Linked DNA regions of Homo sapiens. The protein of the gene in region 1 interacts with the protein of each later gene in a pairwise test. Each region holds a gene or a part of one and is shown on either strand. Other genes may lie near its edges.

The links.
Region 2: the proteins of NR2E3 (region 1) and NRL come close enough for resonance energy transfer, tested with the Homo sapiens proteins (one study listed by BioGRID).

What each region holds. Positions count from the first base shown.
Region 1 is NC_000015.10:71,813,554-71,819,042, reverse strand, and holds the end of NR2E3 (photoreceptor-specific nuclear receptor), read right to left. Parts: coding exon 5,408-5,489; intron 5,032-5,407; coding exon 4,926-5,031; coding exon of another isoform or gene 4,922-4,925; exon of another isoform or gene 4,114-4,921; intron 1,492-4,113; coding exon 1,359-1,491; 3' UTR 790-1,358; downstream 1-789. UniProt on the Homo sapiens protein: Orphan nuclear receptor of retinal photoreceptor cells. Transcriptional factor that is an activator of rod development and repressor of cone development.
Region 2 is NC_000014.9:24,077,909-24,083,985, forward strand, and holds the end of NRL (neural retina-specific leucine zipper protein), read right to left. Parts: intron 4,968-6,077; coding exon of another isoform or gene 4,941-4,967; coding exon 4,560-4,940; intron 3,661-4,559; coding exon 3,328-3,660; 3' UTR 754-3,327; downstream 1-753. UniProt on the Homo sapiens protein: Acts as a transcriptional activator which regulates the expression of several rod-specific genes, including RHO and PDE6B. Also functions as a transcriptional coactivator, stimulating transcription mediated by the transcription factor CRX and NR2E3.

The DNA.
Region 1 (5,489 bases):
TTCCCTCAGAGTTAATCTGCGGATTAAATGGCAATTTAAAAAGTGCCCGGCTCACTGCCTGCTATTAATATATACATTGCCTGATCTATGTTAACATGTTAAAATATTATTTTCACAGTCATCTGGGTCTATCTTCAAAAAGGATTAGGTTCACACCTGTAATCCCAGCACTTTGGGAGGCCAAGGTGGGTGGATCACCTGAGGTCGGGAGCTCTAGACCAGCCTGGCCAACATGGAGAAACCCCGTCTCTACTGAAAATACAAAATTAGCTGGGTATGGTGGTGCATACCTGTAATCTCAGCTACTCGGGAGGCCGAGGCAGGAGAATCACTTATACCCGGGAGGCGGAGGTTGTCGTGAGCCAAGATTGCGCCATTGCACTCCAACCTGTGCAACAAGAGCAAAACTCAGTCTCAAAAAAAGAAAAAAGAGAAAAAGAAAATGATGAAGTTTGTCTGAGCTGTATCTTTCCATAAGGACCTGAGAAGTGATGAAGAGTCCCTTTCACAAAACGTACCTGTAGCTGCCTTATGTTGAGTTGGAAGGTGTTCTTTACTTAGGAAGGAGATGAGGCAGGAGATAGGAGATAAAGGTTGAGAGATGCTGCGGATGATGGGATGCCATCTGGAGAGAAGCTGGGTGGTTGAATTCTATGGGAGATTTTCCACTGGGCTTGAATTCATTGCGCCTGGTCTCTGACTTGGAGTGGAACCCAGATGGAACTCAAAGACCTTGCGCTCATTCCTTCAGTGTCCCCAAAGGGAGAGCCTTGACCACACTCATTTTTCTGGTTTTTTTTGTTTTTTTTTTTTACTTTTTTATTGAGGTCTAACAAAATAAAGTGCACAGCTCAATGAATTATTACGTATGAATACATTTGTGAAACCACTGCCCAGATCAAAATCAACATTTCTGGTACACCAGAGGGCTCCCATGAGCCCCCTCTGTATCAATCCCCCACCACCCAGAAGTAACCACTATTCCAACTTCTATTATTGTCAATTAGTCTTGCCTGTTCCTGAACTCTGCATAAATGGAACTTCGGCCTGGCTTCTTTCATTCAACTTTTATGTCTGTGAAGTTTACCTGTGTTGCCACATGTATCCGTAATTCATTCTTTTTAAATTATTTTTCATTATATGAATATACCACAACTTGTTAATTCATCCTACCATCAATATACAGTTTGGGGCTATTATGAATAAAGCTGCTATGAATATTCTTACAATATCTTTCGGTGGGCATTTCTGCTGGGTACACACACCTACGAGGAATTGCTGGGGCAAAGAGTAGGCAAATGTTTCGTTTCAGTAGATTGTTTTCCAGAGTGCTTGGAAACATTTCACCTCCACCCCCACTAGTTTTTGAACATATCACAAAGGAGCTTCTCCATTGGAGTATTCCCTATGGTCTTGCGGAAAAAGAGGAGCTCGATGCGTTCCGCAGTGATAAACCTCAAAGACGGGAGGAGCAGGAGCAATTTCCCAAACCTGAACAGGAGAGAGGACGCCATCAGTTTTACGACCAGCTTCTGAGCACTAGTCCCTGGGGCGGTGCCCTCCCAGGAAAGGGAGGGGAGGAAGGAGAGGAGAGATGAGGTCCCCAGAGTGGGTCAGGAGGAATTTCGAGGAAAAGCCACATTCAGGCCAGGCGTGGTGGCTCACGCCCGTAATCCCAGCACTTTGGGAGGCTGAGGCGGGCGGATCACAAGGTCAGGAGATCGAGACCATCCTGGCTAACATGGTGAAACCCCGTCTCTACTAAATATACAAAAAATTAGCCGGGCGTGGTGGCGGGCACCTGTAGTCCCAGCTACTCGGGAGGCTGAGGCAGGAGAATGGCATGAACCCGGGAGGCGGAGCTTACAGTGAGCCGAGATCCCGCTACTGCACTCCAGCCTCGGCTACAGAGCAAGACTCCGTCTCAAAAAAAAAAAAAAAGAAAAAAGAAAAGCCGCATTAACCAGAGGAGTTGCCTCCACCTACCTCGACCCATTGTGAGCCGCCACCCTCTATTTAGTTTAGGAGTGCAATGAAAATAATGAGTAAATATTGTTTATTATATGTAAAGATTATAAAGTGAAGTTTATATTAACTCTATACAGATGGTTCGACTTTATCATGGTGTGAAAGTGATAAGCATTCAGTATGCTCCTTGACTTAAGATGGGTTATGTATGAAAATTCATCTTCAACTTACAGTAGCTTCAACTTAACAATGGGTTTATCCAGATGTAACCCCATCATAAGTCAAGGAGCACCTGTATATGAAAATATTATTATTAATCTCATATATAAGTATTATAATTATATGATTAGTTTTTAGTAGATAAGAATTGTTTGTAAGAATACAAATTCCTGTCTGTATACCACCTAGGATGATGATAGCCATTACTGAAAATGTCCTGAAGTTGAAGGATAATTTTGGTGACTGAGATAGTCATTGAAAAAAATATTTATTGTTTTAAATAAGAACTATTTGCTGGCTGAGCGTGGTGGCTCACGCCTGTAATCCCAGCACTTTGGGAGGCCGAGGCGGGCGGAACACGAGGTCAGGAGATCGAGACCATCCTGGCTAATGCGGTGAAACCCCGTCTCTACTAAAAATACAAAAAATTAGCCGGGCGTGGTGGTGGGCGCCTGTAGTCCCAGCTACTCGGGAGGCTGAGGCAGGAGAATGGCGTGAACCCAGGAGGTGGAGCTTGCAGTGAACCGAGATCACGCCACTGCGCTCCAGCCTGGGTGACAGAGAGAGACTCCGTCTCAAAAAAAAAAAAAAAAAAAAAGTATTTGCTAAGACAGGAGTCCGCAACACAAAAGACGGATGGTGAAGCCCCAAGAGACAGATGGGGGAACTAAACCTTCCCTGGGTAGGTCTGATGGCCAGGGTCAACACCCAGCATCAAGGAGGCTACTCCACATTGGGCAGTCCCATGCTCCTCTCACCGTGAATTTCGGGGAAGACTTCCCCACCACTCAGTGATCTGCTGGACTTGCTTTGCCAACCTAAGGCCTTCCTTTCTCTTGCTAGTGCCAAGTGAGCAGCACTGAGCAAGTCGTATACCCCTCCCATCTGCCTTCCCTGCTTCTGTTTTTCTGATCTAAATTAGAGTGGGAGGAAGAAGAAATAACTATAAAGTCAGTTAAAGAATGTTTTTTCCAAACTGCAGGTATTGCCTCACCTAGTGGGTCTGAAATTAAATTCAGGGGGTCACAATCAGCCTTTTCAAAAAAAGAAAAGAGAAACATCAGGTAAATTGTAAAAGCTAAGGGTAGGAATTACTTCGTGGAACTTCGCTTTGGTGTCTGTGTGCATATCAGGGGGCGATGGTAATTGTGTTTCTTCCTGGGTGTTGCAGTTTTTAAAAACTGAAATAATATGCTGGATTAGAGAACCCCAAACCACTATCTTCATGCTCAATTCCCTTGTAGTAGGCAATGAACCGCTATAAAAGGGACATAGGAAATCTTAATCAGCATTTTGAAATTTGACGCATAACCAATATGCCAGGACATCTCTGGGAGTTGGTTCCAACAGAAACTTGGCAGAGAAAGGCTGCTGGTTTCTGAATGTCTCTGAATCCCACTCTTCAGATGCTAAGTCAAGTCTTAGTAGTAGCAGCGTTCTCCCTATGCTCATAAGCAGCACAAATCTTCCTGTGCTATATGGCATATACTTTGTATACTGTGGCTTTTCTTAAAAGGAAATTACCTTTTCTCCTTGTAATCATTTCTTGGATTAGAGGTGATGCAAGGATGCCCATATTAGCTTGCTTCTTCAGAAAGAAACTGCCGGGAGCCCCAAAGATTGCAGATAACATGGTCTAAAATAGCCAGTAGATGCCTGAAGGCCAAATGTTCCAACCTTGCTGAGGCTCCATGACATCTGCCTGTGCTGGGCCAAACAGCGTAGTCCCAGAGCACCGGCTCCTGCCCCACCCTCGCGCAGCCACACTCAGCCTGCAGCAACTCTCCCCCAAACCTAGCCAGGGCCATCCATGTGCTTGGCATCTCTACAGGATGCTCAGTGCACCTACAAAACACCTTATCATCTTCCCTCAAAACCGTCTTTCCTCCTGGCTTTCCTTTTTATATTTTTAACAATGTCTTCTCCCAAAGAGCTCCTCTTCCCTCATTCCTTACCTTCACCCAAACACCGGGTCTGACCCATTTCAACTCCTAGAGTCTCCCTTCTGCTTCCCCTGGCCATGCCCAAAGATCAGAACTCCATGGAACCATCTGGAAGGTGGCAGTAGCTGCCATCCCCTTCCCAGTAGTATCCTCTGGACCCATGGCCATGCCAGTCTGCGTGAGGTCCAGCCCTGTGTATGACCCTCTGCTCGGAAACCTGCAGTAGCTGCCCTCTGCCTCCCAAGTCAGACGTGGCCTTTGGCTGGCATTCAAAGTCCTGAACGGGCTGGTCCTAGGGTACTTTTCTGGCTTATTCTCCCCATTTCTCACTGGCAGGAACCTGTTATACCTTCAAAGTGGGCTCCTGTTCTAACAACATATCATGCTTGCCCCTCTCTCCCTTTGCAAATGATGTTTTCTTTTAGACTTCTTCTTCCTTTCAAGTCCAGCCCTGTCTCCACAAAGTCCCTCCCAATTCTGCTTTATGTTTCCCATGCAAGGGGATCTCTGTCTCCTGCAGATTCATGCAACCCTCAGTACCTGGCTAGGGCAGTTTTTGTCTTCAGTGAGGTCACTGCCGGTTGTCTCTAGAAGGCAGTAGCTTTGTCTTATGTACATCTTGGTCCCCACTCCCGGGGCCTGGCACTGTGCCTGGGACACCATAGATGTTGGCTGTATGCTGTTGAACTGAGACCCTTGTGCTGTCTAATCAGTGAGCTCTGGGAGAGTGTGGGAGAGGCAGAGAAAGGTTAGAGGTCAGGGACAGATGAGTGGGTGGGCGCATGCTCAGGTCACCTCACGGGCTGGCTGGGGTGGTGGGCCTTGCTGTGCTGGCTCAGCATCACTTGGGACTGGTCCTGCAAGGCCTCTACGTGCTCAGGATCCTTCAGGCCCCGCGTCTCTGGGGAGAAGCAGCACCAGTGAGCTTAGCACAGGTTTACGGCTGTTATAAGGCTGGCCATGAAGTGGTGGCCCAGGGTTCTGGCTGCAGACATGGACCTGGGGCCCTGTGGGGTGGGCTCTGCCAGGCCCAGAGGAGCCACCAGGGGCTCCGGCTGGGGCTCAGGGTCTCCCAGGGGCTCCCAGCCTGCCCTGTCCCCTCACAGTCAACCAGGAGTGGCCCCAAGGAGAAGGGAGTCCAGCCTCACCACTCTCCTCCCACCCCCCAGGATAGAGGCCTACACACATCTGCACACATGGGGGTAGTGGAGGGAGAGTGAGAGGCAGATGGAAGTCACCAGAATTCCCACTCAAGGTTTGGGCAGAGACTCAGTTACCTGGCTTGAAGAGGACCAAGGCCTTCATGCAGGCAAACTCCGTGGGGTCCACCGCCAATGCCCGGAACCGAGAGATAGTTTC
Region 2 (6,077 bases), on another chromosome or scaffold:
ACTCCAGTGACCAATGCCTCCACCTCTTGGACCAGGTGTGCCCCCTGGGTTCTGGACGTGAGTGGTGGGTCCTGCTCCTATCTCTCCAAACCCCATACCCTTCAATGCTGTGGCCCCTCAGTGACTTCCTTGGGTGATCCTGACTTTCTAGCCATTAATAAAGAGAACTGCTCCTAGCACCTCAGCCTCTAACCATCATGCCTCAGATGCCCACTGGGCAGCCTGCAGCACCCCCACACACACCATAAGAAATGAGGACCAGCACCTTTCAAAATCTGAGACAGAGCTCCCCAGGCAGGCTGCTGTCTCTGCAGTCTTACCCCAGCTATGTGCCAGTGGGATCTGAGGAGCCCCCTCCCTCACCTCCCAACCCCAGGGGGTCTAGGCACCATGGAGAATAATTACAGGAGATAGGAGGATAATTACGGGCTGTCAGGAGGGCAGGCTGAAGCTTTCTTATAGCTGTCTCCAGAGAGGCCCTGCTGAGTCCCCCAGGAGCTGAACCCCAGCCCCCACACAGCTGTGGGGCGGGCCAAGAGCAGGTGCTGGGGGATACTGAAGGAGGGCAGCAGGTCTGCTAGTGAATTGGGAACATAGTGGAGCATCTAAGGCCTATACAGTCTGGTTTCCCGGGTGTGTCAATGTGTGTGTCTGTTCATGGCCTTAATGGGTCACACTCATGGACTCAGGGATGTGCAGTGCATGAACACACAGATTCACACACTTAACAATCACATCAGCAACAACAGCAAATATCATTACGTAGCATGTGTCAACTTTATGCTAAGTGCTTATTTAAATGCATTTATTCTCAGTAGGTGGTTACCATTATTTTCACCATTTTTCTGACAATCAAGTGAGGCTTGATTTTAACCCACCCATGGTCAAAAAACTGGTAGAACTGCAACTTGAAACAGGGTCTCACTCTGCCACCCAGGCTGGAATGCAGTGGCACGATTATGGCTCACTGCATCCCCGAACTCCTGGGCTCAAGTTATCCTTCCACCTTAGCCTCCTGGGTAGGTGGGACTCCAGGTGCATGCCATTACATCTGAATTTATTTTATTTTATTTTTTTGTAGTGACAGGGTTCTCGCTATGTTGCCCAGGCTGGTCTCAAACTTCCTCCTTGGCCTCCCAAAGTGTTGGGATTACAGGCAGGAACCACTGCGCCCCACCTAAAGCACTACTCTTAATCACCACAGTGTGCAACTTTGTTTTTTTAAGTATACTCAGGTAACCCAGGAGTATCATTTTGAGACCCAGGTATGGTACTGTATATGTGGCCTAGTTGTGTGCTCAGGTGTCTATGGATGGTTCTGTCTGTCTTTGTGTGCCATGCAGGTGAGAAAAGTGAACAAGAAAAGTAGTGGGTCTGAATTACAGCTCCAGGGCAGGCAAGGATAGACACAGGTGAAATTTAGAGTGAGAGAAAAAGAGCTGGGCTCCCGGAAGGACCCTCCCTGCCCCATCCTCTCCCTTCAACAATGAGTGTGGAAGGGGATGAAGAAAGAGAAGCTAAAGGTTCTGTGAGCCCCTCAGAGAGAGAATCCAGAGCCAGAGAGGATGGCCAGTGGCCAATGGTGGGGAAGGGAGAGGAGACGAGAGAAATTCTGAGAGCGATGGAGGAGAGGACTCCCATTGCAGGCTCCTAAGCGGAGGAGGGATGAGCTGGGATAGAGGAGGGGAAAGAGGGAGCAAGAACTGTGATGGGAAGAGAAGAGACAGCTGGGGAGGGGGTGGAGAGAGGGGGTAGAAAGGAAGAGGGACATATGGGAGCCTCTTCCCCCATGCCCGAAAGCTTCTCCCATTTATTATGTCCGGTAGAGGACAGATGACAGTAACTCGTGAGGCGGCTGCTCCCAGCACAACGCCTGTGCTCTGCCCAGAGGCCCCATCTGCCCTCCCCTTAGCCTGCTGAACTGGAGGACTGGGTTACCATGGAAACTGTGAGACCTGGATAGCCACTGACAGGCCGAGCTGGGCCACTGAGGCTTCTGAGTTTGGTGGTGGTGGTGGTGAGAGGGGGAGGATCCATCTGTTCCAATGCCTGCCCCTCCACCCCATTTCCATTGGCTCTCCATAACAGATGTGCCACCCAGCTCCAGGTGGGGACTTCCCTTTTTCTTGCTCTCTCTCTCTCTCCCTCTCTCTCCCTCTCCCACACACAGACACACAAACAGTAGCCTGAAGCAGGGATAAAGAATGAACACTTCTTAAATTGCAAGAACATTTAGCTTATTGCATTAGAATTCTGCCTGGACTTCAAGTTTAATTCACAAAAGCTGCACTCTCTCAGCAAATTGTCATCCCAGGAGAAGTCTCACCTCAGCCCTCAGAGAGGTGGGAGGTGGCAGGAGCACCCTGTGCAGGTCTGGAGGCCCAGACAGCCTGGAGGGAGCTGCCGAGGACCCACGTATGTGCTCACAGAGAAGCCAGGCTTCCTCGCCTGGGCTGTGCATCCCCTGCCTAGGCTGCAGCTGGGAAACTGCAGCAGGATAGGAGGTGCCTTTGGCGAGATTGTCTTGGGGACTTCTTGGGGAGACCACCGGGACTTCCATACTGGGGAGATGCCAGAACTGGAAAGGGAGCAGAAGTCGTCCAATCCACATGAGAATTAGATGAAGTAACACAAGTCCAGGAAGCAACTGATTTGCTCAGGGTGACAGGGGGATCCCATGGAAGAGCTGGGACTAGGACCCAGGTTTCCAGACTTCTGCACACAGCTCTCTCCCAACCCACACCAACAACCCCCAGAGCTCACTCTTCAGGCCTTTGCTGCTCTGAGCCCTGAAGGCCACAGGGTTGGGCAGGGAAAAAGCATCTCGGATAGAGGTCCTAATCTATCTAGTTGTTGGATATTGAAATCTTGAAAATTCTGTAGTGCTAAAATGGGGAGGTTACAAGCTTCAGAATGAAAATACAGCCTCATTGCTAATTACAGCTTTAATGTGTTACAGGTTGAAAACCCTGAATTAAAAACTAAACTGAGGTGGGAGCTGCAACCCTCCTCCACCTCCCATTCACTGTGTCACCACACTTCCACCCCCCAGTGCCTGGCACTGGTCCCTGCAGAGCTCAGCGTGCTAGTCATGTGGGCTGGGTTTCTGTGTTCGTAAGGGGAGGGGACCCCTCTCCAGAAAATGACCAGCATCTAAATTCGGGCATGACTTGAGGACCCAAAAGCTTTGGGGATATTTGCGCGGTCATACAGGGCGTGGCTAGGACCAGAAGGCGCTCTGGTAACGATGCAGAGAACCGTGCAGCCGCCTCCTGGGCGGAGCCACCCCACCCAGCCCCCACTACACCACAAGGTGCTCTGAACGGCTCAGAGGAAGAGGTGGGAGGGGTCCCCGGACCCGGGGCCGCTCGAGGTTAGCCGGTCACAGCGAGCCTTGTAGAGATCGCGCTCCCGGGCCAGGCGGGCCACCTCGGCCCGCAGCGCGTCCAGCTGGGCGGCCAGGCGGGCGCGCTCGGCCTCCAGCCCGCGCCGCTGCTGCAGCCGCTTGGAGCGACAGGCCTGCGCGTAGCCGCGGTTCTTCAGCGTGCGGCGCCTCTGCTTCAGCCGCAGCGCCTCGTCGCGCCCGCAGCCCCGCAGCTGCCGGTTTAGCTCCCGCACAGACATCGAGACCAGCGCCGCGTCGGAAAACCGCTCTGCCAGCTGCGGAGGGAGAATGCAGAAACCGGGTCAGCGCCAGGTCGCACCCGGCTCTGCCCTGAGGGCCCGACGCTACCTGGCTCCGCCCCGGGACAGCCCCGCCCCGGCTCCCACCTTCACCGGAAGGCTCGCCCTTCCACGCAGTCTGTTTCGGTCCAGAGCCCGCCCCAGGCCCCGACGCTCCCCGGGCCCCCCAGCTGACCGTTGCTCCAGTCAGGCGGGCGCCCCACGGTGCAGGGCCGGCCACGGTCAGGCGAGCCCGTCGCGCACCTAAACCCCGGGCTCGTCTCTGGGATCCCCGGCATCCAGCTCCAGGCCCGGGTGTGTCCAGTGGACCCGCACCCAGACAGCCCCCAACCCTCCAACGCGCTGCGTTTCCCTGTCCTGAAGCCTGCAACCCGGTGACCCTCACAGGATTTGGATTACATCCTAATGCCCGCAACACCCCCATCTGTGTCTGTAATTAATAGGATGAGTCCCAATCCTTCCTGAGAAGGTTGGGGGCTGGGAAGCACGAAGTCTTGAAAAGGCCAATCTAAACCAGTCTTAACCCAGCTCCACTCCACACATAACCCTTTCCCTGGTTTCCACACACCATGTATCTGTTTACCCCCCGGAGTCGCCCACTCCCCAGCTCAATTCTTCCCTTTGGATTCTCTGCTAATCTTATCTTCTCCCTGCTCCTCCTGGTTCAGCCTACTCATTTCTCTCCATTTTAAGAAAAGGGGGAGAAGCAGAATGTAGTTTTCTCGATCTGATTGCTTTCAAGGGACCTTCTCCCCTTCTCCTGCCCTCTGTCCCCTGTCCCAGTCCATAACCCCCTCTGGGAGCTCCCCTTCCTCTCTTGGGCAGTCCTCCTTCCTTGCCCTGCCTCCCCTCAGGCCAGCTTGCTGACCACTCACCTGGACGTGCTGGGCTCCTGTCTCCTCTGGGCTCCCTGGGTAGTAGCCATGGGGCCCATCAACAGGGACTGGGCCCTGACCCTGCAGCAGCTCCATGGCCTCTTCAGGACTCAGCCCCAATGCCTCCCCAGCCCCCAGCTGCTGCTGCAGGGTAGCCAGCCAGTACAGCTCCTCCAGGCCTGGCCGGGTGCCCTCGGTTGCCCCCACCATGCCTGGTTCACTGAAGGTGGGTGAAGGAGGCACTGAGCTGTAAGGTGTGGAGCCCAGTGAGGCTGTAGGGGGGCCAGGTCGGCCCTCAGAGGGTTCCCGCTTTACCTCAAACTTCATCAAGTCAAAGTCATTGACATATTCCATGGCCAGGGGGCTGGGGGGCAGGGCCATTCTGGAGCTGGGCTGGGAGGAGTGCACCTGCAAAGAGGAGGAGAGGTCTGGAGCACATGGAGGCCACCTGCCATCCCCTCTTCACCAAGTCCCTCTTCCCTCAAAGCCCAAGTGCCCTGGAGCAAGAGTTTGGGAAAGCCAGAGGGATGGTGCAGCTCTGTTCACTGCAGAGTCCCCACCAGGCTGAAGAGTAACCTTTCAGAGGGCAGGGGCTCCTGACAGGGGACAAGCAGCTGAATTCCTGAAGGAGGAAGAGGACAGCACAGCCTCTCGCCCCACTGATGCCTCAGGATCTATGAAAAGCAAGAGCAGTATGGCAGTGCTCCCAACCCTAGTGCTGAGACATGCCGAGAGGTCTGTCATCTCAAGAGGCATCATTCCATTTCCAAGCCATTTTTTTAAATTGCTTAATTAACTGTGACAAAGTGAGTGTATATTTTAGGACAGTGGGAAGGCATGTATGCTGTGAATTTTAAGAGCCAAGGATAATGTGTTCTTATAGCTCTCTGTCTCTCAAAGCACTCAGGGAAGTGCCTTGCCTATAGAAGACCCTCAGTGTACATTTGTTCTATGGATTAATCAATCAATGAATCCCTTTTGTAGGGGCAAGAGGCTTTATATGGAAAAAAGAAAGGTCCTAGAATTAGTTCTAGAAAGATCAGAATCAACTGGCCACCATCTTTCCTCAAGGCCAGTCTCTCCAAGGGGAACAGACCAAGATTGATTTTCCTTCTATTCAGAACTTGTTACGTTGTGTGAACTTGGCAGATCACCTTCACCCTTCTGACCCGTTTTCCCTTCTGTTCAATGAGGGCAGTTAGACTTTGTAACATATACCAAAGAGTGTTCTCTAGAACACTGATTCTGAACAATACCTATGAAGAGGTCTGTGCTCAGATAACTTTGAGAAATGTTGCCTCCTATCCCTACCTCTTACAGATGCACATAGCACAAGAGCATATTAACCTGAGCAATCCTTTAGTAAACCGTCTGTTCAAGTTCAACAAAAAGTGTCCTAAACTTATGTCACCAAGGAACTCTCCTGTCTGTTATCAATCATGGGGCACATGTTCACCTGAGGAACTTCTGGCTGGGTGACCTCAGATACCCTTCCCAGCCTTGAAGTCCAAGCTCTAG